Homo sapiens: one gene and its partners. The protein of the gene in region 1 purifies or fractionates together with the protein of each later gene. This does not show direct contact. Each region holds a gene or a part of one and is shown in the gene's direction. Other genes may lie near its edges.

What was found.
Region 2: the proteins of PCDHGA5 (region 1) and EPHX1 purify together in Homo sapiens (affinity purification with mass spectrometry; 2 studies listed by BioGRID and IntAct, with this or other methods). This does not show direct contact.
Region 3: the proteins of PCDHGA5 (region 1) and KLHL20 purify together in Homo sapiens (co-immunoprecipitation; 3 studies listed by BioGRID and IntAct, with this or other methods). This does not show direct contact.
Region 4: the proteins of PCDHGA5 (region 1) and ACVR2B purify together in Homo sapiens (affinity purification with mass spectrometry; 2 studies listed by BioGRID and IntAct, with this or other methods). This does not show direct contact.
Region 5: the proteins of PCDHGA5 (region 1) and GINM1 purify together in Homo sapiens (affinity purification with mass spectrometry; 2 studies listed by BioGRID and IntAct, with this or other methods). This does not show direct contact.
Region 6: the proteins of PCDHGA5 (region 1) and KLHL13 purify together in Homo sapiens (co-immunoprecipitation; 2 studies listed by BioGRID and IntAct, with this or other methods). This does not show direct contact.
Region 7: the proteins of PCDHGA5 (region 1) and SNX14 purify together in Homo sapiens (affinity purification with mass spectrometry; 2 studies listed by BioGRID and IntAct, with this or other methods). This does not show direct contact.

The regions. Positions count from the first base shown.
Region 1 is NC_000005.10:141,362,422-141,367,172, forward strand, and holds the start of PCDHGA5 (protocadherin gamma-A5 isoform 1 precursor), read left to right. Parts: upstream 1-1,740; 5' UTR 1,741-1,909; coding exon 1,910-4,330; coding exon of another isoform or gene 4,331-4,351; exon of another isoform or gene 4,352-4,751. Other genes in the region: PCDHGB2 (protocadherin gamma-B2 isoform 1 precursor), read left to right, coding at 1-135. UniProt on the Homo sapiens protein: Potential calcium-dependent cell-adhesion protein. May be involved in the establishment and maintenance of specific neuronal connections in the brain.
Region 2 is NC_000001.11:225,833,771-225,838,003, forward strand, and holds part of EPHX1 (epoxide hydrolase 1), read left to right. Parts: intron 1-4,233. UniProt on the Homo sapiens protein: Biotransformation enzyme that catalyzes the hydrolysis of arene and aliphatic epoxides to less reactive and more water soluble dihydrodiols by the trans addition of water.
Region 3 is NC_000001.11:173,717,723-173,721,955, forward strand, and holds part of KLHL20 (kelch-like protein 20), read left to right. Parts: intron 1-4,233. UniProt on the Homo sapiens protein: Substrate-specific adapter of a BCR (BTB-CUL3-RBX1) E3 ubiquitin-protein ligase complex involved in interferon response and anterograde Golgi to endosome transport.
Region 4 is NC_000003.12:38,451,840-38,456,823, forward strand, and holds the start of ACVR2B (activin receptor type-2B precursor), read left to right. Parts: upstream 1-2,050; 5' UTR 2,051-2,483; coding exon 2,484-2,535; intron 2,536-2,547; exon of another isoform or gene 2,548-2,775; coding exon of another isoform or gene 2,776-2,845; exon of another isoform or gene 2,846-2,981; intron 2,982-4,984. UniProt on the Homo sapiens protein: Transmembrane serine/threonine kinase activin type-2 receptor forming an activin receptor complex with activin type-1 serine/threonine kinase receptors (ACVR1, ACVR1B or ACVR1c).
Region 5 is NC_000006.12:149,586,456-149,590,688, forward strand, and holds part of GINM1 (glycoprotein integral membrane protein 1 precursor), read left to right. Parts: intron 1-4,233.
Region 6 is NC_000023.11:118,106,367-118,110,599, reverse strand, and holds part of KLHL13 (kelch-like protein 13), read left to right. Parts: intron 1-4,233. UniProt on the Homo sapiens protein: Substrate-specific adapter of a BCR (BTB-CUL3-RBX1) E3 ubiquitin-protein ligase complex required for mitotic progression and cytokinesis.
Region 7 is NC_000006.12:85,545,007-85,549,239, reverse strand, and holds part of SNX14 (sorting nexin-14), read left to right. Parts: intron 1-863; coding exon 864-939; intron 940-1,689; coding exon 1,690-1,734; intron 1,735-1,842; coding exon 1,843-1,923; intron 1,924-2,013; coding exon 2,014-2,128; exon of another isoform or gene 2,129-2,156; intron 2,157-4,233. UniProt on the Homo sapiens protein: Plays a role in maintaining normal neuronal excitability and synaptic transmission. May be involved in several stages of intracellular trafficking. Required for autophagosome clearance, possibly by mediating the fusion of lysosomes with autophagosomes.

The DNA.
Region 1 (4,751 bases):
ACAGAGTTCAATTTTCTGAACATAACCCCGGAATTGGTTCCCGCGCAAGATCTCGTCTGTGACAATGCCTCTTGGGAACAAAATACAAATCATGGAGCCGCTGGGGTCCCTTTTGCCTCAGATACTATTTTGAAGGTGAGCTTTAATTAATTTATTTTCACTTCTGGTTTTATTGTTTCACCTAATTTGGGTAGGAAGTTCCACTGCGTATTTCTTTGTCTGTGAGTTAGATTTGGCCAATGTTGTGCCTTAATTGTCTTAATCTTATCTAACTGAATTTTAAGTGTTTTCTCTCTGAAGTGTGAGATTTATTTACCCATGATTGCAAACCTTTATCACATGAGATATTGCACTGTATTTCTTTTTCTTCCTCATCTTTACATTACTTCTCTCTGCAGATTTGTTGCTATTGAGACTTTAGGCAATTAGTTTCACCTTCAGGCTCTTTGTTATTCAAATTTTAGTTTTACTTCCTCTTAGAATCATAATACTTCAGAGTAAAGAGAGTCTTCATTTTAGTAGGCTTTGGAAATTGGGAAACAAAGAAGAAAGACTTTTGCATAATGGCATGGCTTGTTAATCACAGGGCATGGGTAGGACATTGTCCCATTGACTTGAAGACCAACACTCAGTAAGCTAAATGTCTTGGAATCACAAATGTATTTCTAAAGGACAGGCAATGTTTGAGGTCTGAGGTGTCTGCTAGAAAGAGTGCATTTAACAAATGTGAGAAATCATTCTCTAACATGCATTTTAACAAATTGCTCTTAAGAAAAACTACACATTGAGAAAAATCTTACAACCTATGTTCACATCATTTTCTACAAAATATTACTTAAAACTTTGCTTTTGAATTTCCTAATTATATAGAATTTTTATTTTCTTAGTTTTCTATGAAAGTGTTATTAAATAAAATGACTTTCTGAAATGTCCATTTTTTTCAATCAAGAGGTTTTTCTATTTCTGTTGTCATATAAAGATGATAGCAGTAAATATCTGTCTCAACATAGAAAGGTCACTCAGTACTTCTCGACAAGTATCTGCTCATGCTTTCCTGCATGGATGATGAAATAAAACCCCATCCTCCACAGTTACTATACTGGTTGTCACTGGAACTACAAATATTTGAACATGGTAATAGAAAAACATAAAAATGCATAGTTAACCCAACTCAAACGCTGTCTGAGATAGTGGAGAGACTTTCTCAAAGTCCTCACAAGTAACAAAGATCTTTATTTCTTCTGCATATGACAGCTAATATAACTTACATAAATCAGTAGGCCTGTTTGGAAAGGTGCATGGAGAACTGGGTTTGTTTCCTTGGTATTCTTATATGCAAATAAGCACGTTTTCCTAAATTTATCCTAATAAGGAGATGAAATCTTGAATCCTACAAAGGTAAGAATTTGAATGTCCTAATTTAATGGACTAAATATAGATAAGAGGTAAATAAAGGACATAGGCTCCCCCGATGACGCATTAAATAAAATTTTTGTAAGGTATTGAGATCTAATAATCATATTGATCTCAGGGATTGTGGAAGTCTTGCTATTCAGAATTAAAGCTGAATTAACGGTCATAAACAACGCTACACAGTTAAACATTAAGGATATGGCAACATTATTAGAAATAAAATTATAACTAAACTTAGGAGAAATAAAAATGGAATTTGATGCAGTCACTGGTTAGGACTCTGAGTGTCGCTGTTGACCAAAGTGGGAAAGAAGCTGCCGCAGAGGCGACCCGACTCTGCTCCCTCCATACTAAACACACAGACCAGACAAGCTCCTACGAAAAGCCAACGCTCCACGCCCATTTTCGTCAGGGAATATGTACCCATCGGCTTTAGATAAATAAGGAAACAGCAGGCTGAACCAGAACTAAGAGAAAATTGGGCAGAGAGAAGGCAATGGCGAGTCCACCTAGGGGCTGGGGCTGCGGAGAGCTGCTGCTGCCCTTCATGCTCCTGGGGACGCTGTGCGAGCCAGGATCCGGGCAGATCCGCTACTCGATGCCGGAGGAGCTGGACAAAGGCTCCTTCGTCGGCAACATAGCCAAGGACCTTGGGCTGGAGCCCCAGGAGCTGGCGGAGCGCGGAGTCCGCATCGTCTCCAGAGGTAGGACGCAGCTTTTTGCCCTGAACCCGCGAAGCGGCAGCTTGGTCACCGCGGGCAGGATAGACCGGGAGGAGCTCTGCGCTCAGAGCCCACTGTGTGTGGTGAACTTTAACATCTTGGTTGAGAACAAAATGAAAATTTATGGAGTAGAAGTAGAAATAATCGATATTAATGATAACTTCCCGCGTTTCCGGGATGAAGAGTTAAAAGTAAAAGTTAATGAAAATGCGGCTGCAGGGACACGGTTAGTGCTTCCCTTCGCGCGGGATGCGGATGTGGGTGTGAACTCTCTCCGGAGTTACCAGCTCAGCTCCAATCTGCACTTCTCTCTGGATGTGGTAAGCGGAACTGATGGACAAAAGTATCCGGAGCTGGTGTTGGAACAGCCCCTAGACCGCGAGAAAGAGACTGTTCACGACCTCCTCCTCACAGCTTTAGATGGCGGAGACCCGGTACTCTCCGGCACCACGCACATCCGTGTTACGGTCCTCGACGCAAACGACAATGCGCCCCTGTTCACCCCATCCGAGTACAGCGTGAGTGTTCCAGAGAACATACCTGTGGGCACTCGGCTGCTCATGCTAACCGCCACGGATCCAGATGAGGGAATAAACGGGAAATTGACCTACTCTTTTCGCAATGAAGAAGAAAAAATTTCGGAGACTTTCCAACTTGATTCCAACCTGGGGGAAATCTCAACTCTACAATCACTGGACTATGAAGAATCCAGATTCTACCTCATGGAAGTGGTAGCTCAGGATGGAGGCGCTCTTGTTGCCAGCGCTAAGGTGGTGGTCACAGTACAGGACGTGAATGACAATGCCCCCGAAGTGATCCTCACCTCTCTGACCAGTTCGATCTCTGAAGACTGTCTTCCCGGAACTGTAATCGCGCTGTTTAGCGTACATGATGGTGATTCTGGAGAAAATGGTGAGATTGCATGCTCTATTCCTAGGAATTTGCCTTTTAAATTGGAGAAGTCAGTTGATAATTACTATCACCTATTAACAACTAGGGACCTGGACAGAGAAGAGACTTCAGATTATAATATCACTTTAACCGTCATGGACCATGGAACCCCGCCCCTCTCTACAGAAAGCCACATCCCCTTGAAAGTAGCAGACGTTAATGACAACCCACCCAATTTCCCTCAAGCCTCCTACTCCACCTCTGTCACAGAAAACAATCCCAGAGGTGTCTCTATCTTCTCTGTGACAGCCCATGACCCCGACAGCGGCGACAACGCTCGAGTCACCTACTCCCTGGCTGAAGACACATTTCAGGGGGCGCCCTTGTCCTCCTATGTATCCATTAACTCTGACACCGGTGTCCTGTATGCTCTGAGATCCTTCGACTATGAGCAGTTGAGAGACCTACAGTTGTGGGTGACAGCCAGCGACAGTGGGAACCCTCCACTTAGCAGCAACGTGTCGCTGAGCCTGTTTGTGCTGGACCAGAACGACAATACGCCTGAGATCCTGTACCCCGCCCTCCCCACAGACGGTTCCACGGGCGTGGAGCTGGCGCCTCGCTCCGCAGAACCTGGCTACCTGGTGACCAAGGTGGTAGCGGTGGACAAAGATTCAGGCCAGAACGCCTGGCTGTCCTACCGCCTGCTTAAGGCCAGCGAGCCAGGACTCTTTGCGGTTGGGCTGCACACGGGCGAGGTGCGCACAGCGCGAGCCCTGCTGGACAGAGACGCGCTCAAGCAGAGCCTCGTGGTGGCCGTCGAAGACCATGGCCAGCCCCCTCTGTCAGCCACCTTCACGGTCACCGTTGCCGTGGCCGACAGGATCCCTGACATCCTGGCTGACCTAGGCAGTATCAAGACCCCCATTGACCCTGAGGATCTGGACCTCACACTCTATCTTGTGGTGGCAGTGGCTGCAGTCTCCTGCGTCTTCCTGGCCTTCGTCATCGTGCTGCTGGTGCTCAGACTGAGGCGCTGGCACAAGTCACGCCTGCTTCAGGCTGAAGGCAGCAGGTTGGCGGGTGTGCCCGCCTCGCACTTTGTGGGCGTGGATGGGGTTCGGGCTTTCCTGCAGACCTATTCCCACGAGGTCTCCCTCACCGCGGACTCGAGGAAGAGTCACCTGATCTTTCCCCAGCCCAACTACGCAGACACGCTCCTTAGTGAAGAGAGCTGTGAGAAAAGCGAGCCTCTTCTGATGTCTGATAAGGTAGATGCAAACAAAGAAGAACGGCGAGTTCAGGTTAGTTTTCTCTTTCGGTAAGGATGACCAGAACATTTTCATTTGTTTCCTTTTTCATGTTTCTGTCATATTCAGAATCAGCTAGTTATGTAAATAGTGGAACATTATTTGCTGTATTGGAGATTAATTTTTTTTATATAATTCATGCTTTCTCCATTTGTTTTCAAATTCTGTTTTGGGAAGTCTAGCTGATATCTGTAGACTTAAGTGAAACAAATACCTTAAAGGAAAGTGGTTAAATATAATCATTTTACCCAAATATTTTGTTATATTGGAACTGCAGTTCTATTAATAGAAAAGATGTTTTATTTATTCAAATTGTTAGATATATTGTTCTCTTTTGAGTGTCTGCCTAGACACCATTAGTGAATGTGTTTTGGAAAGGATAATGTATAGGACTGATATTTTAGTCTACCTGAAA
Region 2 (4,233 bases), on another chromosome or scaffold:
GGCGACAGAATGAGACTCTGTCTTTAAAAAAAAAAAAAAAAAACAGGCTGGGCGCCGTGGCTCACGCCTGTAATCCCAGCACTTTGGGAGGTCAAGGCGGGCAGATCACAAGGTCAGGAGATCGAGACCATCCTGGTCTAACTTGGTGAAACCCCGTCTCTACTAAAAATACAAAAAATTAGCCGGGCGTGGTGGCAGGCGCCTGTGGTCCCAGCTACTTGGGAGGCTGAGGCAGAAGAATAGCGTGAACCCGGAAGGCGGAGCTTGCAGTGAGCCCAGATTGCGCCACTGCACTCCAGCCTGGGTGACAGGGCAAGACTCTGTCTCAAAAAAAAAAAAAAGAAAAAAAAAAAAAGCCGGGTGCGGTGGCTCACACCTGTAATCCTAGCACTGTGGGAGGCCGAGGCGGGTGGATCCCAAGGTCAAGAGATCGAGACCATCCTGGCCAACATGGTGAAACCCCGTCTCTACTAAAAATACAAAAATTAGCTGGGCATGGTGGCACGTGCCTGTAGTTCCAGCTACTCGGGAGGCTGAGGCAAAAGAATTGCTTGAACCAGGGAGGCGGAGGTTGCAGTGAGCCGAGATCGCGCCACTGCACTCCAGCCTGGCAACAGAGCAAGACTCCATCTCAAAAAAAAAGGGAGAAAGGAAGGATGGACGGAAACCTCGACTTGGAGGTGCCAGGGCAGCAAACATCCTTGTTCTGATGCAAGCAGGCCAGGCCTGTGGGAGAATGAGCCAGAGAAAAGCTAAGTCAAATCCCAGTGGTGTGTGTCCTGGAACTAGAGCCCATCCTGGAGCTCAGCCAAGAACACTAAAAAAAAAAAAAAAAAAAATCTGGAATGATTTTTTGGATCAAATTTGGACTTCTCTTGAGTGTTGCTGTATTCTTTACAGTAATTTGATATCTTCTATTATGAGCCTAACAAGAGGATCCAAGCCACTTAATCCCAGCCAAACTGCTGTATGCAATTACCATAGGTTCCTGTTTGGATTCCTGGCACGAAATTGCCTGGCTTCCTTGAGTTTGACTTGGATCCCTGTGTTGTCCCAGCTCTTCAGTGTCCATCCAGCAGAAACTAACAGGGCGCCTGCTGTACCCAGGCATTCTGCTGGGGCTGGGGACGCATAGAGAGGACAGGGTCCCTCCTTCACAGCTCATAGGCTCTTCAGGGGCAATTCCAGCACATAGTGGCGGTGTTCTGAAGGAGGAGGCTCTGGGAGCTTCATGAGCCCCACAATCTTCCTTTGAATGTGAGGGAAGGCTTCCTGGAGGAGGTGGCATCTAAGCTGAAATGAGTGGGACTTTGCCAGGTGTGTGGGGAAGGTGGTCCAAGAAAGGGGAACAGCATGTTCAAAGGCCCAGAGGCAGGAGGCAGTAAAGGGCCCTTTCCATCCTGGCAGCTGCCAGCCTTACCCCACTGGACCCTTTCAGGGTTCTTCATGAGACTGGGTTTTTTTTAGAGACAGGGTCTCACTCTGTCAGCCAGGCTGGAGTGCAGTGGTGTGATCACAGTTCATTGCAGCCTCAATTTCCTGAGCTCAAGCGATCCTCCCACCTCAGCCTCTCAAGTAGCTGGGACCACAGGTATGCACCACCACACTAGGCTTTTTTTTTTTTTTTTTTTTTTCTTGAGACGGAGTCTCGCTCTGTCACCCAGGCTGGAGTGCAGTGACGCAATCTCGACTCACTGCAAGCTCCGCCTCCCAGGTTCACGCCATTCTCCTGCCTCAGCCTCCCGAGTAGCTGGGACTACAGGCGCCCGCCACCATGCCCAGCTAATTTTTTGTATTTTTAGTAGAGACGGGGTTTCACCGTGTTAGCCAGGATGATCTTGATCGCCTGACCTCGTGATCCACCTGCCTCAGCCTCCCAAAGTGCTGGGATTACAGGTATGAGCCACGGCACCCGGCCTTTGTTTTTTCTTTCCTTTTTTTTTTTTTTTACATTTTTAGTAGAGACAAGGTCTCACCATGTCACCCAGGCTGATCGCAAACTCCTGGGCTCAAGCAATTCTCCCACCTTGGCTTCCCAAAGTATCAGGATTATAGGTGTGAGCCACCACACCCAGCTGACATTGGGCATTTATGGTACAAAACCTCCCTCAGGTACAACGGCTCCAAAAGAGCCAGTTTCCAGCATTGAATTCATCGTGGACTTACCCATGTGTGGTTCTGGCACCCTGCCCGGGGCTGGAGGCCTGTTCTTGGCCTTGGTCCTTTAGAATAGGAGTAAATTTGGCAACATAGGAGGACACCCAGGATACATTGTTAAGTTAAAAAAAAAGAGATTCTAAAATAGAATGTATGTATGGTTCTATTTTTGTTAAAAGTTATGTTCTCTAAGTCTTTTTAAAAAGTTTGAACTGTCACAGCCAAGAAGGGTCTAAAGAGACATGACAGCTCAGTGGTGTGTGAGTCCTGGATGGGATCCTGGAACAGAAAATGGATATCAGGGGAAAAACTGAGGAAATCTGGCTCATATTTTGTTGTGTGTAGATACCAGCATTATCCAGGTTTTAAAAAGGAGAAAATCCTGGCCGGGTGTGGTGGCTCACGCCAGTAATCCCAACACTTTGAGAGGCCAAGGTGGGAGGATGGCTTGAGCCCAGTAGTTTGAGACCAGCCTGGGCAACATAGCGAGACCCCTTCTCTACAAAAAAAAATAACAAAAATAGGCTAGACATGGTGTTGCCCACCTGTAGTCCCAGCTACTTGAGAGGCTGAGGTGGGAGGATCACTTGAGCCTGGGAGGTTGAGGCTGCAGTGAGCCGTGATTGTGCCACTGCACTTCAGCCTGGGCAACACAGTGAGACCTCATCTCTAAAAGAAGAAGAAAAAAAAAGGAAATCCTGCAATGTGTGACAACATGAATAAACTCTGAGGAAATAATGCTAAGTGAAGTAAGCCAGGGACAGGACAAATACCGCATGATTCCACCTATAGAAGGAATCTGAAATAGTCAAACTCAGCAGAAGCAGAGAGGAGAAGGGTGGTTGTCAGGGGCTGGGGAATAGGGGAAACGGCATTGCTGATCGTTGCTGTGTAAAGTTTGAGTCCTGCCAGCCGAATACATCCTAGAGATGGGCTGTACAGCAGAGCGCCGTCAGTGTTGGACACTTACAATCTGTTAAAAGGGTAGGACCCATATTAAGTGTTCTCGCCATATAATAAAAAGTGTAAACACTAAGGAAATCAATGGACTTTATAGTTAATAATATCTCAGTCTGGTTCGTTAATTGTAATAAATGTACCATGCTAACATAAAATATTAATAATGGAGGAAACCCGGTGGGTGTGAGGTATATGGGAGTTTTCTGGATTCTTTGCAGTTTTTCAGCAATCTAAAACTGTTCCAAAATAAAGTTTAGACAGACAACACCATGTTTTCTTTAGAGAGTGGGATTACATGTGAGTCTTCCCCCTTTGGCTTATCTGTGTTTTCTAAGTTTTCTACAGTAAACATGTATTATTTGTATAATATATTAACGACAGAACAGAACATTAGCTAGACCATGCTGACTGCACCAGCCCTGGTGGCAGAGAGTTCCAAGCATGGCAGCCGCCCTCACTGTGAATGCCGTAAGGCCCCAGGTGCTGTCCAGGGCACTGGCCTGGGAAGGGGCTGCCTTCTTTTGATATGCAGAGGCCCCAAGTCAGTCCAGAGGAGACAAGAATCCATTCACCTGCCCTTGGCTATGATGATGTTTTCAGCATTGCACTTAAAAAAAAATCTTCCACTTTATTTTATTTTAATTTTTTGAGATGGAGTCTTGCTCTGTTGCCCAGGCTGGAGTGTGGTGGTGTGATCTCGGCTCAGTGCAACCTCTGCTTCCCAGGTTCAAGCGATTCTCTTGCCTCAGCCTCCCGAGTAGCTGGAATTGCAGGCGCCTGTCAGCATGCCCGGGTAATTTTTTTGTATTTTTAGTAGAGACGGGGTTTCACCATGTTGGCCAGGCTGGTCTTGAGCTCCTGACCTTAGGTGATCCACCCGCCTCAGCCTTCCAAAGTGCTGGGATTACAGGCGTGAGCCACCACACCAGGCCCAAAAATACTCCACTTTAAAGAAAATATCATTTGGTAATCAGAAAAAGGTGACATTTTGTCAATGTGTATGAAAAAAATTATGCATTTAATACCTGTTCATTGTAGAAAAATTGGAAAGTACATAAAACTCAAAGAGAAATTAAAAGCACTGGAATCTACTGCTCAGGAGAACTGCTTTTTACA
Region 3 (4,233 bases), on another chromosome or scaffold:
GATTACTGAATAATTGTTTGAATAGGACTGAACAGTTTCTGCAGACTTTCCCCCTCCAAAAAACAAAAAAAATCTATGAACAAGACTGAAAATTATTGTTAAAGGTATTCTAATTTTTGATTATAAAGTTTTATGAAATCAATTGGCATTTTATTAGTAAAGTTTCATTACCTCATTTATTTATGTACTATCATTTGCATAGCACAATGCAAAATTTAAAAGATACAATAGGATATTCAGTGAAAAGTTAACTCTCCCATTGCTGACCCCAGTTCCCAAAGGCAACCACTGTAAGCAGTTTCTTATGCATTCTTTTAGAGGCATTGTAGTTCATACACAAATGTATATAAGATGTCTTCTCTTTTCACTTTTTTAATTTCTATTTTGTAGATACAGGGTTTTGCCATGTTGCCCAGGTTGGTCTCAAACTCCTGGGCTCAAGCAGTCCCCCTGCCTAGGCCTCCCAAAGTGTTGGGATTACAGGCGTGAGCCACCACACCTGGCTAACATTAGTAGCTTTTAAAAAGAAAAGATGGCTAGGCACAGTGGCTCACACCTGTAATCCCAGCACTTTGGGAGGCTGAGGTGGGCTGATCCCTTGAGCCCAAGAGTTCAAGACCAGCCTGGGCAACATGACAAAACCCCATCTCTACAAAAAGGAAACAAGAAAAATTTAGCCAAGTGTTGTGGCAGATGCCTGAAGTTCTAGCTACTCAGGAGGCTGAGGTGAGAGGATCACTTGAGTCTGGGAGGCAGAGATTGCAGTTAAGCCGTGATCATACCATTGAACCCCAACCTGGGCAACAGAGCAAGACAGTGTCTCAAAAAAAAAAAAAAAAGACACAAATGTTGTAGGGCATAGTGGTTCACACTTGTATTCCCAGCTACCCAGCTACTTAGGAGGCTGAAGCAGGAGGATTGCTTGAGCCCAGGAGTTCGAGGCTGTGGTGATCATGCCACTGCACTCCTGCCCGTGTAACAGAGAGAGACCCCATCTCTTTAAATAAATAAATAAAAATAAGAAAATGCATTTGAAAGGACACTGTCAGTATATCATGCACATTCTTCTGTATCTTTATTCACTTGAAAAATTATTTTGTGGCTGGGTGCGGTGGCTCACGCCTGTAATCCCAGCACTTTGGGAGGCCGAGGCAGGCGGATCACAAGGTCAGGAGATCGAGACCATCTTGGCTAACACGGTGAAACCCCGTCTCTACTAAAAAATACAAAAAATTAGCCGGGTGCGGTGGCGGGCACCTGTAGTCCCAGCTACTCGGGAGGCTGAGGCAGGAGAATGGCGTGAACCTGGGAGGCGGAGCTTGCAGTGAGCCGAGATTGCGCCACTGCAATCCGGCCTGGGCTAAACAGCGGGACTCCGTCTCAAAAAAAAAAAGAAAAATTATTTTGTAAATTGTAACAAATGCATATAGACTTACCTTATTCCTTTTAATAGTTATGTAGTATTCCATTGTCTATATGCACCTTAGTTAACCAGTCCCATTTGAGAGAGATTTATTTCAACTGTTTTGCTGTTACAACCAGTTCTGTCTGCAATGAATATCCTTGTAGGTGGTTTTTGCCCAGATGTGTAAGTATAGAATAAGTTCTGGCTGGGCGCAGTGGCTCACACCTGTAATCCCAGCACTTTGGGAGGCTGAGGCGGGCAGATCACAAGGTCAAGAGATCGAGACCATCCTGGCCAAGATGGTGAAACCCCTTCTCTACTAAAAATACAAAAATTAGCTGGGCATGGTGGTGCGTGCCTGTAGTCCCAGCTACAGTGCCAGTCAGGAGGCTGAGGCAGGAGAATCACTTGAACCCAGCAGGTGGAGGTTGCAGTGAGCCAAAATCGTGCCACTGCACTCCAGCCTGATGAAAGCATAAGAATCCGTCTCAAAAAAAAAAAAGAATAAATTCTTAGATTTAGAATTGCCTAAAGATTATGTACATTTTTTTAATTTTGGTGGACATTGACAAATTTTTGCCCTTAGAGTTACACAAATGCATAGTCTTTACCAACAATATGTTTGTTTCCCAAGATATTAATTTTCAATCATTCATTTTATTAAGAGATACCAAATATTTTGTAATTAATTCTTCCAACTTTCCTTAAATATATAAATAGAAAACTGAGCTTGATTGTAGAAATTGGTTTATTCATATATCAAACCTTTATATAGTACCACTCTATTCCTGTATATTGTGTGATACAGATCAAGTGATGAGAACAGATATAATGATACAGTATTGGCGTGGTACAGTGACTCATACCTGTAATCCCAGCACTTTGGGAGATGGAGGAGGAAGGAAGATCACTTGAGCCTAGGTGTTCAAGGCTGCAGTGAGCTGTGACTGTGCCACTGCACTCCAGCCCGGATGACAGGGCGAGACTTCATCTCTAAAATATAATTAATTAATTAATTAACAAACAATGTTAACAGAATTTTAATAGAGATGTAAACTTAAGAGGAGGGAACTGCTCTGTGGAGATGAGGAAGCATCACAGAGATGGTAACATTTGAGCTAGATCTTCTAGGAAGAATAAGAATTTACTTCTAAAGAAGGGAGTTAATTAAGGACACCATAAAAGGAAGGAACAGCTTGTGCAAAAAAAAAAAAGATAAGAGAGAGTACCAAGACCCAGAATTGTCTGACATGCATGGAACAGTGAGTATATGTGGAGTATAGGGTATTTTGAGGAAGAAGGGGAAGTAGAAAACATGGAAATTGAGGCTACAACAGTGGGAAAGAATTCAAACTTTATCCTTTAGGTATTTAAGAGCCAATGGACATTATTATATACATCGTTTGTTCTTTGAACTGATTTCTAGGCACATAGGGGATGGATTGGAAAGAGGGAAGAAATTATGGCAAGGAAATGAATTTAAAGTAGTTGTGGTAGTTTAGATGAAAGATGATGAGAACCTGAAGTATATCTATGGCAGTGAGGGTTGAGAGAAGTAGATGGAATTGAGAGCTTGTATAATAGTAAAATCAAAAGGATTTGGTGAACATGGAGTGAGGAAGAGATAGTGTTATAAATGACTCCAAACTTAGGAAACCAGATGCCGCCATGATAAGATTAAAAAGAAAAATACAGGAAGAGGAACAGGTTTCAGTAAGCCAAGAATAGATTCTGTTTCATATACTTTAAGATTATTGTGTTTAGGAAACAGCCAGGTGGAGATATCCAGCATGTGATTGGAATATGACTCTGGGGCAGAAGAGAGATTTGGGCTAGAAATTTAAAAAAAAAAATGTGAGTCATCAATACTAAGAAGGTTCTTCAAGCTGTAGGCATAAGTGATGGTAGAACAGAAAAGGAGAATGCTGAGGACAGAACTGTAGTGAGTACCAGGGGTGTTTACGATGGGGCCTAGCAGGAAGGCCCCATAAAGTCTCTAAAATGAGTAAGAAGCTTTACATGCTTTGGGTCTTATTTTATTTAACAGTATCTAGAGTTTTTATTGATAGTTTTTTACTCACATTGAAGGATAGCTGAGCTACTCCTTCAGTTCAATTTCAGAAGACAAAATTTCCAATCTCGTATCTTTGAAATTTTCAATTTGTTCTACTCAGTCTAAAGTGTATGCTTAAAAATAGTGTAAAACATACTTGCTTGATTTGACTATTCCCTAGTGTGGCATGCACTGTAGGTTAGCTTGCACATCTCTTCTTTTCTTCCGTCTACTATAGACACTAGAAAATTAAATACTCTGAGTTCTTAGTTGTCTCTGCATATGGGAAGGGCTGTGTGACACAGTGCTACCAATGAGATGTCAGCAGTAGTTGTTGAGGGGTATTCTAGGAAGGCTTTTGCTATCCTGATATAAAGGGAAACTAGCATGCTTGCATGAGGATTTACCCTTCCTGCTCCATCTTGGTCTCGATCACTGGACCAAGGCACCCAAGGCTTATGCTCATTTTATCCAATAAGCCGTGATGAGATGTCTTGGGACTAAAACATTCACAACCAAGTTTCAAATAAAGAGGTTAATAGCTTGGCCTTCTGGTGTGGAATCAGGTGTGGAATATAGTGCCTATTGGGACCCCTTCTACTAAGTAGAAGTGACACTTTGAGATGTTATTTCTGTTTTGAGGGTTTATACACTCAAATCTCCAGCTGTCTCTATTCAAGTATATTTAGGACTATAAATGAGGGTCAGTGCAACTGAATCTTTTTTAAGGTCAAGTTGTTAATTTTCAAAGTAAAACAAAATTTTTGAAGTAGGA
Region 4 (4,984 bases), on another chromosome or scaffold:
CAAGTAAGCAGTTGGATATAAATTTGGGGTTCCCAGACAGGTCAGAGTGGAAGACACAGATATTTGGGCAGCTTGGACCACTCTGAGTCCTTATTATGATACCTGACCTGGTATGGAGTAGAAGAGAGGAACCAGCCAATCTAATTTTTGGCACATGGATAAAAGTCGATACCTTTCAGTCCATATTGGAATGGAGATAACGATTTATACTCCCTAGAAAAGACACTTAAACTGGATATGGAATTACTTCCGTTATCACAGTCTATCACTGTGGCCTCCTGTGTTATTACCAGATACCTTATACACAGCTAGGGTGTCCCATACAACACTGCTTCTTGCTTGGCACACAGTCGCATAGTATTCAATCCTGTGTTAAATGGCTTAGATAATAAGTCACCTGTAGGGATTATAGCAAGCAGGGACCATCATTTTCACATAGAATTTCCCAGGACTGGAAGGGACTTTTAAAGACCCAGAAATCTTTCTGGGCAGTGCCTCCAAAGTGTGGCCCCTGAGGTGTTCCTGCTGCTCTGGTGACCGGGGGTAGTTGACCCTATTTCAATGTCAATCAGAACAATATACATTCCTTTATAAACTTGTTTTTTTTTTGAGAGAGAGTCTCACTCTGTCACCTAGGATGGAGTGCAGTGGTGCAATCTCAGCTCACTGCAACCTCCGCCTCCCTCCTGTGTTCAAGCGATTCTCCTGCCTCAGCCTCCTACCGAGTAGTTGGAATTACAGGTGTGTGTCACCATGCCCAGCTAATTTTTGTATTATTTAGTAGAGACAGGTTTTTGCCATGTTGGTCAGGCTGGTCTCGAACTCCTGACCTCAAGAGCCTCCTGGGCCTCTAAAAGTGCTGGAATTACAGGTTTGAGCCACCTCGCCCTGCCTATAGTGAACATTTACATAATATTTTGTTTGACTAGGTTTCTGCCATTAAGAAGATGCAAAACCCTGAGGGAGTGTACCTCTTCACTTTGCATATGGGAAAACTGAGGCTCAGAGAAGTGAAATGACTGAGACCTCCAGGTGCCACCTCCCTTTCAGCTGCTCCTGCCCTGCTCCAAGCAAGGATGTGCCAAGTCAAGAGAAGACAGAGGACAATTAATGTTATCTGAGGATCTCGGAGCCTCATCCCTGAGCTATGATGGTCTTTCCCTCCTTAGTTGGGAGCCCCATCACGTTCCTCCGAAGCTCTAGTTGTGTGATAAGGAGGGTGGAATCTGAGACAGAGAACGATGGCCCTCCAAGGAGGGAGTTCGGGGTGAGGAAAACAGCAAAACCATGTGCTAGACAAGATCTTCAACTGCAGGGCTCTGGAGGCAACTGGGAAGTTTTGAAAGTGCAGATTGAAGCTCAGGGCCGCTGTGGGTGGCGCAGGAACTGCAGAAGACAAGATAGGATTAGGGAGGGCCAGCAGGTTGCCAGAGGCCCTTTTCCACCTGCTGGGCTTAGAGGGGCGGGACTCTGCCCGCTCCCTCACTTGGTTGGGTTTAAATGACCACTCCCCGCCCTAGCTGTGCCTTTGAGTGTGTGGCAAGGGATTGCAGACGGGAGACTGCTTGTCAATTCAGGGAAGTCAGCCTCTTTCTGCCACTTAATTCGCCCATCAGTAGAGATCCGACTTTCCCACGGTTCACTGTCACCCCCATTGCACAGGTGGGGAATCCAAGGCACAGAGGCGTCTGGGCCAGAGTCCCGGGACTATCCACTCATTCCGGGGTTGTAGGGCAGCATGTGTCAGGAGCTTGGGCTCGAGCGTGCGGGGCACTAATTGCGAGTGCAGTGGCCACAGGCTCCCGGGCAAAGTGGTCAGGAGCCCATTCCCGCCACCTCCGTCCGCGCGCCCCGCCCTGTCCTCCAGCAAGTTGGTGCACGCGCGTCCTCCCACAGGGCGCGGGATGGGGGCGGGGCCTCCGTGTTGTTGTTTCTCTGGGGCCCCGCCCCTCAGGGGGGCGCGGACCACGCGGCCGGAGGGCCCGCCTCCCCTCCCCCTCCCCGCCCAGCCCGCCCGCCTCTTTGTATCCAACATCCGGGTTTCCCCGCTGGCTCGGCTCCGTGGCCGCCGCTCAGGAGCCATTTTGGACTCGGTTCAGCTCCCCTCCCCCCCACCCCTCCCCCCGTTCATGGCCCCTCCGGACTCGGCCCCTGCGCCCGGGGCCCGGGCCCAGCCCCGCCGCGCTATGCCTGAGTCGGGCGCGCCCCGGCCCGTGCCCCGCCGCCGCCCCCCGGCCCCCGCGTCGCCCCGGAGCCCGGGCCGCAGCCTGCGCCGCCCGCAGCGGCCCTGAGCCCGGCCCCGCCGACCGGCCCTTGGAGCCCGAACGCTGCTCGGGGACGAAGGCGCAGGAAGCGCGCAGGGAACGAGACCGAAGGAAGGAGCGGGAAGGAGAGCGCAGCCGCCGCCTGGCCCTGCGCGCCCCGGGAGCGCCGTGCGGCCCTGCCCGCGGGCTCCGGGTGTGCGCGGGGCGGCGCCGCGGAACATGACGGCGCCCTGGGTGGCCCTCGCCCTCCTCTGGGGATCGCTGTGCGCCGGTAAGAACTGGGCGCGGCGCGGGGACGCCGAGAGGGCGCGCGGGGCTGGCCTCTGGCGCCGCGCGGTGTTTACCAACAAAGGGCGGGCCCGGGGCCTCGTCGCCGCACCACCTGTATTCAGCCCTCACCTCCGGGGGCGTGGGCTGGGGGCGCGGTGGGCGCCCGGCTCGCCGAACTTGGGGGCACGATCTTGTCTGTGCAGTCATCTGCGGGATTCTGGTTCCTAGAGGCGCCCCTGCGATGGGGGCCGGGACGCGGAGCCTCAGGGTCGGAGTTCGGGCTACGCGGGCGCGTGGAACCCAGGGAAAGAGTGAGGAAAACCTGAGCGTGGGGAAGGCGGCCAAGAGGGGTGGGCAGATCTCATTGGGGGTGGCAGGATTGTAGGTGCAGCAGCAGCAGCAGCATGCGGGGAGGGTTGCATGTCCCTCAGAGTCACTAAGTGTAGCGAAGCGAAGGGGGCGGCTTCACGCAGCCCAAAGTCCCCTGCATCTCTTGCCACCAGTCTGCGTCGCGTTACCGGCCCGGCGGGCTGTTGGTGCTGGCTCCCACCTGCTCCCTCTTTCCCTGCCGTTGGCCCCGGGATGCGGAGTGTGGTCGCTTCGCGGGACCGCTTTGTTTGGGCACTTGGGAGGGGAGGGGGTGGGTAAGATGGAAAACCCAACAGGTCCCTCTTCCTTCGGGCCTCCAGGAGGCACGTGGCGGGGTGGGTGACCAGCGCTCAGCTCGCCCGCGGCTGCGGGCGTGTGGCTGGAGGTGTTCGGCCAGCGCATGTGTGTTTGGGGGTATGTGGGCGCGGGCGTAAACAAGCGGAGTTCCGCCTGGAAAGCTTGTTTCTCCTACGGTCCAAGCACCGATTTCCCTCTCTCAGTGGTGCCGGGGTGCGCCTAACCCCGGCGGGCGCGCCGGGACGTCCCCTGGCCAGTCCTGGGAAACGTGGGGAGCTGGGCATTGAAGCTCTGGCGAGAAGGTCGGGGCGGCTGGTACCCGGCCGCCGGGTCCTGCGCGTCTTTGTTCCCAGCCCCCATTACACATGCAGCGCGGGTCCCCCGCCGCCCTCGGTGGCAGCCGCCTGGAGTCTGGGAAACCCTCGAGGGGCGGGGCCGGGCGTGCAGGGGCGGGGCCGGAGTCCCCACGCTGCTGCGGGGGTGGGGATTTGGGATCTGCGTCCCATTCCCACCCTGGTTCTACCTTCTCCTGTGCGTCGTCGTGAGGCTTAGTTTACACCGAAAGCGAGTGAGTTCTGTAGGGTAGTAGCGCGCGCGCGCGCAGCCTGAGTCCGGAAACCGAAGGGCAAAGACCAGCTGGCACCTGAGTACCGTATGGAAGAGGGCGTTGCAGCTCTCCTGGAGCCGCTTCTTGGAGGCGAAGTGGTGGTCGTGTTGGACTTTCTGCTCTTTTTTGCCCCGCTCCCTTGGGATGCCTTTTCCCCAAGAAGGAGTGCTCGAAAGTGAAAGGGGAGGCATTGGTCTGCTAGAGGGAGGGCGGCAGCAAGCTGACTTGATAGGCAGACCGCAGCCCACCTGACTGCCTCCAGACCCGCTGGGTGCCTGATCCCTGGAAGTGCTGGGGCTCTTCCAAGCCCAGGCCTTTAGGAGAGCTTCCTCCCAAGACAGGACAGCTTGAGACCTGGGATCTGGGGATCACACCAGTCTCACACCTCCCTCCTTAGGCAGGGCAGGGCGGCATCAGACCCCTGGAAGGACTGTATGTCCTTTCTTTTTCCTCTGCTTCAGTCACCTAGCTTGGGCAGTGCTGAGCAGTGTACCCTGCCAGGGGGCAGTCAGAGTCACACTATAAGGACCTGTATTCCTGCCCTGGGAGGAAGGTGGGGGTCACTGGGTATTTCTTGTAGTCACATCAACCAGTCCCTGACCTGTGGAGAACTGTGAAAAGAGCTGCCCCAGGCCCAGTTTGGAGCAGACCTGACCGTCCTGTTGCTTTGGCTTCAGGGATGCCCTTTAATTTCAAGCTCCTGGCTTGCTGTTTGGAATAACCCCCATACTGTGCAGCACACAATGCCTGCTAGAAGGAACATCTAGAAGAGTGCTGTGTGACAGAAATAGTGTATGAACTATGGATAGATATAAAACAACGTTTTCTAGTAGTCGTGTTAATAAAAGGAAGAAGAAACAGCTGTGTCTTAGCTGGGGCTGCCATAACAAAATACTGTAGACTGGTGGCTTAAACAGCAGAAATTTATATTGTCAAAGTTCTGGAAGCTCTAAGTCTGAGCCCAGGGTGCAGGGTGCTGGCATGGTTGGGTTCTGGTGAGGACCCTCTTCCTGGCTTGCAGATATCTGCCTTCTTACTGCATTCTCAAATGACAGGGGTGGGGTGGGGCAAGGGGGTGTTTTCCTCTTTTTGTAAGACTGTGAATCCTGTTCTCATTACCTGATGGCCCCACCCTCATGACTTAATCTAACCCTCACTACCTCCCAAAGGTCCCGTC
Region 5 (4,233 bases), on another chromosome or scaffold:
TTTAACATGAGGTTTGGAGGGGAAAAACTTTCCAAATCTAGCACCACCAAAACCCAGCTTTGGAAAGATTGACTTCATTGAATGTTTTGCAATCTAATGTTAAAAGCATGAAGTAACCTCAAGGTAATATTACACATGAAGTCTCTTGAAAATTTATATTATTCTGTGGTGCCTCTGTGAGTTTGCTCACCAACCCAGGGACCTCAGTGCAGTTTGGGAACCATAGACCTAAGATCTTTTCTTATCACTACATATATTCTTTTTTGTCCCCTTAGTTATTTTAATTCTATTTTATTTTTTATTACTTATTTTTGAGACAAGGTCTCACCTTGACACCCAGGCTGGAATGCAGTGGCTCAGTCATGGCTCACTGCAGCCTCAATCTCCCAAGACTCAAGTGATCCTCTCACCTCAATCTCCCAAGACTCAAGTGATCCTCTCACCTCAGCCTCCTGAGTAGCTAGGACTAAGGTGTGTGTCACCATGCCCAGCTAATTTTTTTAATTTATTTTTTGTAGAGGCCAGGTTGGCCCAGGCTGGTCTCAAACTCCTGGGGTCAAGCAGTCCTTCCACCTTGGCTTCCCAAAGTTCTGGGATTACAGGCATCAGCCACCATGCCCAGCCCTTAATATTATTTTTAACTGACATGTCATAATTATGTATAGCTTACCTATTCTTTTTATGGCTGCATAGTTCTAAAGGAGATAGGAAAAACCAAAGCATAGGAAAAATACTTTGGTTTTTCCTACTCTGACACTCTGGAGTACTTCACGTTTGGGCACCAATACGTGTGTGGGGATTTTTCACCACCAATAACTAATTCTCCAGTGGACACCAGCTGGGTGTCCTCTAATTCAGTTCAGTTCTGACACTTTCCACCTGGACACAGCGTCAGATCCCACAGGCTAAGGGCTTAGTTCCACAAGACTGCCCCCCTTCAGATGCCAGTTGTAAGCCCCAGGTTGTGATGTGTGATTCTGACCAGCTGGGTATAAAGAGGTTGCCATGACTTCCTCTTTGGGTTTGATTAATTTGCTTGGGACGTCTTTGGGGCGGCTCACAGATCTCAGGGAAACACCTCCACTTACTGGTTTATTACAAAGGAAACATGAAGAGGCAGATGGAAGAAGTGCATAGGGCAAGACATGGGGAGGGGGAGAGGGGTTCAGAGCTTCCCTGCCCTCCCTAGGTGCACCTCTATCCAGGTCCCATACCTCTGTGTGTTCAGCTATCCAGAAGCTCTCCAAAGCTAGTCCTTTTGGGTTCTTTTGCAGGTTTCATCACACAGGCATGATTGATTACATCATTGGTCACTGGTGATCAACTCAACCTTCAGTACCCCGTTCCCTTCCCCAAGGTTGGGGGATGGGACTGATCTCATGGTTGATACCCCTGGCAACCAGCTCCCCTGTTGAGGCTATCCAGGATCCCCCAGCCATCAGTCATCATTAGCATCCAAAAGATACTTACCACTTTGGAGATTTAAGGATTTTAGGAGCTGTTCCAGGAAGCCAGAGGAACTTACAAGTCATAATATCACAGGTGTTCCACAGTATAGATATACCTTAATATAACCATTCCTCTAACATTTAGGTAATTTCCAATTTCATGTTAATCCCAATAATGTTCTAGTATACATCCTTGCACATATATTTCTTTGCACATGTGTATTTATGTAGAATAGATTCCTAAAAGTAAAATTACTGTGTCACAAGTAATTGTATTAACTCCTTACAACCTGATGATAATCTTTTTTGGTTTTGCTACTAAAAATATAATTCATCTTAATTTGCATTTTCATCTTACTAGCATCTTTGCTAGTTTAGGTCTGGGTGGGTTCAACATCTTTGTGATAATTGGCTATATATGATTCTCTCATGACTTGCTTACGTAGAGCCTCTGGCCATTTTTCAATTGTGTTGGCATTTTGTAACTATTAGTATATAAGAGCTCTTTTGTCTGTTATACATATGTAATGCACATTGCAGATTTTTTTACTAATCCCAGCCTATCGTTTGTCTTTTGCTTATTTATGGTATCTCATCATACAAAAGCTTTAAATTCAAGGCCTAAGTAATTCATGTTATTCCTTTACAGCATGTAGGGTTTTTATTTTGCCTACTAAGTAGGCCAGACTTTCCTATCTTAAAATTATGGGGCTTTTTTTGTTTGTTTTTTGTTTTTTAAAGACAGGGTTTTGTTCTGTTGCCCAGGCTGGAGTACAGTGGCAGTGCTATCAAGGCCCACTGCAGCCTTGACCCTCCTGGGTTCAAGCGATCCTCCTGCCTCAGCCTCCCAAGTAGCTGGGACTACAGGCACTTGCCACCCTGCCTGGCTAATTTGTTGTTGTTGTTGTTGTTGTTGTTGAGACACAGTCTTGCTCTGTTGCCCTGGCTGGAGTGCAGTGGTGTGATCTTGGCTTGCTGCAACCTCCACCTCCTGGTTTCAAGCAATTCTCATGCCTCAGCCTCCTGAATAGCTTGAGATTACAGGCGCCCGCCACCATGCCTGGCCAATTTTTGTATTTTTAGTAGAGATGGGTTTCACCATGTTGGCCAGGATGGTCTCGAACTCCTGACCTCAAGTGACCCACCCGTCTCGGCCTCCCAAAGTGCTGGGATTGCAGGCGTGAGCCACCGTGCCCAGCCATTTTTTTAAAAAAAATTTATTTTGTGTAGAGACAGGGTCTCACTATGTTGCCCAGGCTGGACTCCTTGGGCCCAAGCAGTCCTCCTGCTTCAGCCTCCAAAGGTGCTGGGATTACTAAGGGCATGAGCCACTGTGCCCAGCCATTATATTTTCTTAAAATTTATTTATTTATTTATTTATATATTTGAGACAGAGTCTCGCTTTGTTGCCCAGGCTAGAGTGCAGTGGCACAATCTCTGCTCACTGCAACCTCAACTTCCCGGGGTCAAGAGATTCTCCTGCCTCAGCCTCCCGAGTAGCTGGGATTACAGGCGTGCACCACCACAGCCGGCTAATTTATGTATTTTTAGTAGAGACAGGGTTTCACCATGTTGGCCAGGCTGGCCTCGAACTCCTGACCTCAGGTGATCCACCCACCTCAGCCTCCCAAAGTGCTGGGATTACAGGCATGAGCCACTGCACCCAGCCAAAATTTATTTTTTAGCATTACTTTTCTGTATACTTTTAAAGCTAGAGTTCTCATTTTGTTTCCCAGACAGAGGCCATTTTTCCATTAGTAATTTATCATTGACTTAGAATGTTACCTTATTATAAACTAAATTTCCATATATGTTAGTCTTTTTCTGGACTGTTTTCTGTCCTAGTGATCTATTTGTCTATTCCTGTGCCAGTAGCACAGTTTTAATTACTCTCATGTTTTGTTTTTGTTTTTGAGACAGGGGCTAACTTTGTCACCCAGGCGGCAGTGCAGTGGCACGATCTCGGCTCACTGCAACCTCCACTTCCCGGGTTCAAGCGATCCTCCCACCTCAGCCTCCTGAATAGCTAGCTAGCTGGGACTGCATGTGTCCCATGCCCAGCTAATTTTTTCTATTTTTAGTAGAGATGGGGTTTTGCCATGTTTCCCAGGCTGATCTTGAACTCCTGGGCTCAAGTGATCTGCCCGCCTTGGCCTCCCAAAGTGCTGGGATTATAGGTGTGAGCCCCTACACCTGGCCTACTATCATGTTTTAATAAAACCTTTGAGAGCTACTTAAGACAACTTTGTCTTCTCCCCATTGTTCTTTTAAAAAAAATCTTATGGCTGTTCTTGCAGTTACTCCCCTGTGAACTTTAGAATCTGTTTGGTTCTATAAACAACTAACCCCCGTTGATGTTCTTATTAGAATAACACTGAATTTACAATGCAGGGTCCTAGATTCAATCCAAAGACGTACTCTCTGGTCAGGGATTTTAAGTAACAAAAAGAGCAACACTATCTAAAGACCTAAGGTTGTGTTGTGGTGGTGAGTATTATTTAGAGAGAGGCTTAGGCTTAGGCTTTTTGCTCAGCCTGGGTGTATCTAGGAACCTAACTCTGCCTTGGAGATCTATACTTACCCTATTCTTCCCTAAAATAGGAAATAATGAACTTCCTCGATGCCTTTCTATTCTCTCAGCCAGTTTGGTTAAAGTGACTTTGGGCTCAGTTTGTACAACCACTATGAATTTTTAAATAGAATGTAGCAAAAGCACCTAACCTTAGGTGTATATTATAACCTTGAAGTAGCCTTTTCTCACTATCAAACTACAGGCAGAGGAAAC
Region 6 (4,233 bases), on another chromosome or scaffold:
CGAGACCATCCTGACCAACATGGTGAAACCCTGTCTCTACTAAAAATACAAAAATGAGCTGGGCGTGGTGACATGTGCCTGTAATCCCAGCTACTTGGGAGGCTGAGGCAGGAGAATCGCTTGAGACAGGGAGTTGGAGGTTTCAGTGAGCCAAGATCGTGCCACTGCACTCCAGCCTGGTGACAGAGCGAGACTCAGTTTCAAAAAAAAAAAAAAAAAAAAGAAAAAGAAATAGAAAAGTAGAAAAGAGAAAGGTAGAAAACAAATGAGACATGATTCCTGACCTTCCTTAGCCCCAGCGCCCTGCATGGTTACATGGGGACATGAGTGTGCGTTACAATTCTTTATTTTCCTCTGTAAACTTGACATCATTAAGATTAAAAACATGCAAAGGAAAACCCAAGAGTTAATTGAAAACTCTTCTTAGCGTCCATGATATGAATTGGGTTTTAATTATCCTAACACAACCCCCCTCAGTATTATCTTTATATAACATCTTGACAGCCTTTTCCTTTCTAACTAAACTAAAACAACATGGATTTTCTTGTTCTTTACCAATACACAATTGGTGTATTTTCTTTTGTTTTTGGTAGAGATGAGGTCTCACTATGTTGCCCAGGCTGGTGTTGAACCCCTGGCCTCAAGTGATCCTCATGCTGTGGCCTCCCAAAGTATTGGGATTACAGGCATGAGCCACTGTACCTGGCCTGTTTTTTTTTCCTTCGGTTTTGTGGGGTTGCCAGTAATTACATGTCTCAAAGGATTTTTTCTGCAGTTTTCTTGCAGTTGAAAACTAGTCCTTGAAACTATTCTGCCAATTCATTCAACAAATACTTATTAAGTGCCTATTATATTCCAAGCATTGTGCTAGTCTAAACAAATAGAATCTCTGTCTAGTGCTCTTTCCATTACTTTGGGTCCTTCAAAGTGGAGCACATGTACTGATTGAGCAGGGTGGTGACAAGGTGGTGCTCCCAGGAGCCACAAAATAAAGCAGCTTGTATTTTCTTGAAGCATCTGTTTTACACAGAGATTTAGGAGAACATTAACTGGTAGCTATTTAAAAATCTTTAAACAAATTCAGATACATTCTGCCTTAGAACGCAATATTCATAGAAAATCTGAGGCAAACCCCAATATTTCAGAGAAAGTCTCTGCTTGCAAGGGCAGCTGTGGTAACCCTGAGATGACCCTTTGGAAAGCACTGAGGTGGTGCTGTACTGCCCGAATCTGTTCTTTTAGTCAAACACCCAAACATTTTCATAGCCGTAAATTCCCATGATGACCTGTGGGAAAGTTAATGGACATAAATGTTTTTCTCTGTTGCGCAATTTCAAGGGTACATGTTGGTTACCCTTGGTCTAATGGTCTAAATCTAAACATGTGTTGAGTTCTTACAGAGTTTTTAATGTTGGTGGGTAATGGCTAAGAGTGACTATGAAGGACCTGCCTAGGGAATGATATTTTCAGAATAGAGGTTATTAGGCCTGACGCAGTGGCTCACTCCTGTTATCCCAACACTTTGGGACGCCTAGGCGGGAGCATTGCTTGAGCCCAGGAGTTCAAGACCATCCTGGGCAACAAAGCGAGACCCTGTCTCTATAAGAACAAAAAAAAATTTAAAAATTAGCTGGGCATGGAGGCACACGCCTATAGTCTCAGCTACTCGAGAGGTTTAGGCAGGAGGATCCCTTGAGCCCAGGAGTTCAAGGTTGCCGTGGGCTACAATCACACCACTGCTCTTCAGTCTGGGTGACGGAGTGAGACCCTGTCTCAAAAAAAAAATCTAAAAAAATTTTTAAAAAAGGCTAGAGGTTATTAGAACACAAGGACCACAAACTTAAAGCAGCACAGTTCATGGTGTCAAAGCTTTGCCTTGTTCTGTGCACACTTGCCTGTCTCACTGATTTGAAGTTCACTTTTGCTAACTTTAAAGCTGCTTTCATTTACAGCATAGTATACAAATTGGTTTGTTAATTGCTGGCCACTGAAATAGTTAATACTAGAAGAAAGTTGTCAAGGATTAAGTGCTTTGAGGTTGATAAAAGGTTTCTACAGTTTGAGATGGTTTTGAAAATAGGCCAGCAGAGCATTGGAGGAATGCCTGTTACAACGTGATGGTTTAATTTGCTCCAGATGAGAAAGATGAAGAAGAAAAAGGCAAGTGAAGAAAGGGGGTGAAAGTAAATGGAGTAAGTCAAACACTAAATCTTTCAACTGATTTTCATTATTGCAGTCCCACTTTCATTGTTGTTGTTCCATGCCAGACATAGTTCACAGGGCCTGACATTGTTATATTGTTGTGTTACTGCTCAAATCTTGTAAGGACATGGGTATAGAGGATTGTGATTAGTGGATGGTCTTTATCGTCTACAGGTGAAGTGCTTTTACAGTCTATTCAGTAAAAGGAGATAAGAGTTTTGCTTGTAGTTTGTAGAGTTTTCTTTCTTGGTCCCACTTTTAAAAAAATGGTGATACATTTCTAAAGATCACTTCATTTCAACAAAGTTTTCTGTTCCACTCTTGGATGTTTCTTTTTTCTTTTAAGACAGGGTCTCATTCTGTCACTCAGGCTGGAGTGCAGTGGTGCAAAGTCAAGGCTCACTACAGCTTCAACCTCCCAAGTTCAAGTGATCTTCCCACCTCAGCCTCCCAAGTAGTTGGGACTGCAGGTGCATGCCACCACGCCTGGCTAATTTTATGTATTTTTTGTAGAGACAGGGTTTCACCATGTTGCTCAGGCTGGTCCTGAGCTCAAGCAATCCTCCTGCCTCAGCCTCCCAGTTTGCTGGGATTACAGACATGAGCCACTGCACCTGGCCTCACTCTCAGATATTTCTTAGTGGAAAGGCAGTAGAGCTTAATGGCTATGATCTTGAACCCTGGAATCATAGGCTTGGGTTCAAATCCTGACTGCCTTTTGTTGGGCAACTTGCTTCACCTCTCTGAGCCTTGTTTATCTCCCTTGTAAACTATCTCATCTAGTTTAAGGATTAAATTAATAATGCGTATAGAGTGCTAAGCACACTTAAGCCACATATGAAATATAACTATACTTATTATTATTTTCATAGATTTGTGGCTAAATTAGTTGATAACTTGGAGCATACTATAGGACCTTGGCCAATCATATATGAAGCAGAAATGTGAGGGGAAATTGTGTGTCTTCTTTGTTTATATTGTCTTAATCCTAGCTGGAATGCTATTTTTCGAATGTGCATCTCGTAAATGGTGAGTAGACTGTTTAGAAGTAACACTAGTTTTCTGGCAGACAAGAAAGTTTATGGTGAATGTTGGCTTATTACTTACTCAAATATGGCATCACATTGATTCCAAGAAAAATGTCAGTTTTTAATACAATTAGCCCAATATATATTTAAATGTGATACTGTTTGGGTTAATAGGATTTTAAATTTTAATATCCATTTTGAAGGAAAAGGGTTATGCAGGATAATGTATACTATGAACAATGTTATCTTTTAAACATGAAAACATTTGGTTTTCTGATAATCACAGGGGTCACACATTTTTCTGATTTATCTCTAATTGTTCCAGATTTTAAGTCCCCAAAGAAGAAAATACTGAAGCATTTGTAATAGTTAAGCCATTGGGAAGAGGTATAATTCTGTTGTGAATAATGTCTTCCTATGGATTTTGAGTTGTTATGGTTATTTCAAGTTTTTATCATGGTTACTGTAATAACAAATCAAATAATACCCTAAGAGAAGATAAAAGTTTGATAGTACCTTTGATAAATGAATGGATAAGTCTAAATGGAGTATTGAGAACAGCTTTAGGTGTTAGAGGGATAGACTAATCTTTTAAGTTGAGAGTACATGAATCTACCTTTCCTACTTTCTTACATGATGCCCTTTAGTTCCAATGTCAGACAAATGATGAGAGAGATAATCCTTGGTGATGAAATGCCACAGGTGCACAGAAGGGAAAAGACCAGGTAACATATTGGTCATATACTGTATATTCACAGGTTTTTATGACCGTTATTAAGATAATGTATATTCAAGTGCTTGAAAAGCTTAGCTCACTATATTGATGAAATATATTATTTATTAGCAGTGATGTCTACATTTATAAATAGTGATCATTCTCAGTATCATTTGATGATAAAAAGGCAGTATTCAAATTTATATATTTTTTAGAAAAATTAGACTTACTCTACCATTAGGTCATTAGCTCAAACCTTAAATAAAGATAATACCCTTTATTTTTAGA
Region 7 (4,233 bases), on another chromosome or scaffold:
CCCTAATAACCCTTAGAGGAGTAACCATGGCTTATTTTTAGTGATATTTAAAGTGATGTACTTTAAATACTACTTTTTGTTTAAAATTTTTATGTGGTTCTTAAAAATATTTTAATATTTTGATTACATGATTTTTATACTAGACTAGTTTATAATAGTAAATATGATTATAAGGTAATTACATTAAACATTAATTTAAATATATAATAAACATTTAAGTATTCTTAGATAGAAAGTATTTTCTTTCTTTCTTTTTTTTTTTTAATTATTTTTGAGACAGAGTCTTGCTCTGTTGCCCAGGCTAGAGTTCAGTGGTGTGATCTCGGCTCACTGCAACCTCTGCCTGCCGGATTCAAGCGATTCTCCTGCATCAGCCTCCCTATTAGCTGGGATTACAGGCATGCACCATCATGCCCAGCTAATTTTTGTATTTTTAGTAGAGACGGGGTTTCATCATGTTGGCCAGGCTGGTCTTGAACTCCTGACCTTGTGATCCCCCTGCCTCGGCCACCCAAAGTTCTGAGATTACAGGCGTGAGCCACCCCACCCGGCCGATAGAGAGTTTTTCCTAATGTCCCCCAAGTTCCTCCTGTTAAGGGAATACTTTTTCTTCTCTTAAGTAATATTCTATTTTAGCCAAGTAAGAACTCTAACTCTTTGCTATTCAACGTGTGTTCTGCAAACCAGTAGCATGAACATTGGTTGAGAGTTTGTTAGAAATGCAGACTTTTAGGGCCTAACCAAGACCTACTGAATTATAGTCTCCATTTTAACAAGATCCTTACGTAATTCACATGCACTTGAAAGTTAAGAACTAATATAAATCACTAAATATAAACAATTATTATTATTTCTTTTTCCAGATCTCTGACCTTACTTATAAGAGAGATTCTGTCTGGCTCTGTGTTCCTTCCTTCTTTGGATTTCCTAGCTGATCCAGTAAGACTTAAGATTTTTTTTTAAATTGTTACAAATTACACTTAATATAACATTTAGTATCTTAAACATTTTTATGTATATAGTCAGTGATACTGAAAACATTCATATTGTTGTGCAACCATCCCCATTCCCCATCTCCAGAACTCTTCATCTTATGAAATTGAAACTCTGCATCTGTTAACAATAACTCCTCATTCCTTCCTCCCTCCAGCCCCCCCTGGCAACCACCATTCTGCTTTCTGTCTCCATGAATTTGACTACTCTGGGTACCACATATAAGTGGAATCATAAGTATTAGTCTTTTTGTGACTGGCTTATTTCACTTAGCATAGTGTCTTCAAGGTTCATCCATGTTGTAGCATGTGTCAGAATTTCCTTCCTTTTCAAGGCTGAGTAATATTTCATTGTATGTGTATAACATGTTTTGCTTATCTGTTCATCCATTGATGGACACTTTGGATGCTTCTACCTTTGATCCAGTGAGATTTTGAAGAAACAAGAATGATTTAGAAATATTTTAAATGCCAAAATCAGAATAGCTTTTATTTGCCCATTTTCACAAAGGTTAAGAACCTGTTTTGTAGATGTAAAAAAACTCCTGCTGTAATACATATGTGCAGATTTTTTGCTACTGCTCCATTTATTTTTTCATTTTTCTAGAAACTTACATAATATGATACAAGTTATGAGAATTCTGGGGAGAATACAGTAGTGGAATTATTTTGACTTATGTTTATTATTTTCCACTAGGATACTGTGAATCATTTGCTTATCATCTTCATAGATGACAGTCCAGTGAGTATTGAATATATTAGAAAACACTTCAGATTGCATTGAATTTTGATTTTGTATGTCAAATCAAGTGGGAATTTTACTGAGTTAATAATTCTCTTTCTTTCAAAGCCTGAAAAAGCAACTGAACCGGCTTCTCCTTTGGTTCCATTCTTGCAGAAATTTGCAGAACCTAGAAATAAAAAGCCATCTGTAAGAATTTTCAGCAATAACACCTTTTTGATATAAACAATTTTAGAACTCATTTATATAGCTTAAACTTAATCTTTCTCTTATATCAAGGTGCTGAAGTTAGAATTGAAGCAAATCAGAGAGCAACAAGATCTTTTATTTCGTTTTATGAACTTTCTGAAACAAGAAGGCGCAGTGCACGTGTTGCAGTTTTGTTTGACTGTGGGTGAGGCTTACCTGTGTATTTTACGAAAGTAATTTTTAAACCTTTTAATGTATTTGAATATTTTAAATCAGATCTGATGTTGTGGTACCCATCTATCATTGTACTAAATTTCATATACTCGATTTCCTTTTTTTTTTTTTTTTTTTGTTTGAGGCGGAATTTCACTCTCGTTGCCCAGGCTGGAGTGCAATGGTGTGATCTTGGCTCACTGCAACCTCCGCCTCCTGGGTTCAAGCGATTCTCCTGCCTCAGTCTCCCAAGTAGCTGGGATTACAGGCATGTGCCAGCACCCCAGCTAATTTTGTATTTTTAGTAGAGATGGGGTTTCTCCATGTTGGTCAGGCTGGTCTTGAATTCCCGACCTCAGGTGATCCACCCACCTCGGCCTCCCAAAGTGCTGGGGTTACAGGCGTGAGCCACCGCGCCCGGCCATATACTTGATTTTCTAAGAGCATATGTGGGTTTCTCTCAAGTGCCCACTTCTTTCCAGATTGGGAAATAATCTGTCACTAACTTCATTCAAATCCTAGTAGCAGAAAAAAAAAATACTAAAAGTACAGTATAATGAAAATATATTAAAAACCCAAACTGTAGCCCATGTCAATATCACTTTTTCACAGTTTTTGTAAAGGATTGTTTTGACTAAATTATCAAATATAAGAATACCTCATTTTAATTATAAGCTCTGTAGCATTATAGATTATTGGATTTATAAGAAACTTTATAGACTGAAAATATTGTTTTTAATGCATTTAATTTCTTTTTAAAATATAACTTTAAAAATGAGGTATAATTTATATAGTGAAACACATGGAATTTAAATGTATAGTTTGATCAGTTTTGCATGTGTGTACATCCACGTAACCTGCATCTTTATCAAGATCTAGAACATTTATTTCCATCAGCCCAGAAAATTCCCTTAGGATCCTTCCCAAGAGATCCACTCTTTCCCCTACTCCTGCCAAAGCAATCACTGGTCTCATTTCTCTCAGCACAGATTAGTTTTGCCTGTATAATTTTTTTTATATAAATTGAATCACATAATATGTACTCCTTTGTGCCTAGCTTCCTTCACTCAGGATAATGCTTTTTAAAGTTCATGTATGTTTTTGTCTAAATAAGTAGTTTGGGCAAGGCGCAGTGGCTCATGCTTACAATCCCAGCACTTCGGGAGGCCGAGGCAGGTGGATCACTTGAAGTCAGGAGTTCGAGACCAACCTGGGCAACATAGTGAAACCCTGTCTCGACAAAAATACAAAAATTAGCTGGGCGTGTTGGCTCATGCCTGTAATCGCAGCTACTCAGGAGGCTGAGGCAGGAGAATTGTTTGAACTTGAGAGGTGGAGGTTGCAGTGAGCCGAGATCATGCCACTGCACTCCAGCCTGGGTGACAGAGTGAGACTCTGTCTCAAAAATAAATAAATAAATATGTAGTTTGTTCTTTGCTGAGTGGTATTCCATTGTATGAATGCATATATCTTTTAAACTTCATTATTAGGTGCAGACACATTTAAGATTGTTATATCTTCTTAATGAATTTATTCTTTTATCATTATAAAATGCTCCTCTTTTATCTTTGGTAATTTTTAGTCTTGAAGTCTGCTTTGTCTGATGTTAATATAGCCACATCATCTTTCTTTATATTTGAGTGTTCATTTGTATATCTTTTTCTATCTGATTGAAATGTTTAATGTATTTCTAGTAAGCAGCACATAGTTTCTCTCACTTTAAAAAAACCTAATTTAGTAATCTTTGCTTTTTAATTGGTATCTGTAGTACATTTACACGTGATATATTTATTATGTGTTTATTGTTAGGCCTTACATCTTGGTGTTTGTTTTATATTTGTCCTGTATATTCTTTGCCTTTCTTTTTCTCCTTTGCTGCCTTTCTTGAGGTTATTTTTTAGTATTTTATCTTTCCTATTTTTTTGAGTGTGTTCTGTTACTTTTTTGATTGATCAGAGATTTTCTTTTTCATTTATCATAGTCCTAATTTAAAAACATTTTACTGCTTCAGGAGCAGTGTAAGAACCTCAGTGTACCTCAGAGCATCCTCTCCTGCCTATTGTGCTCCTGTTGTCATGTATTTTAATTCTGCATAGG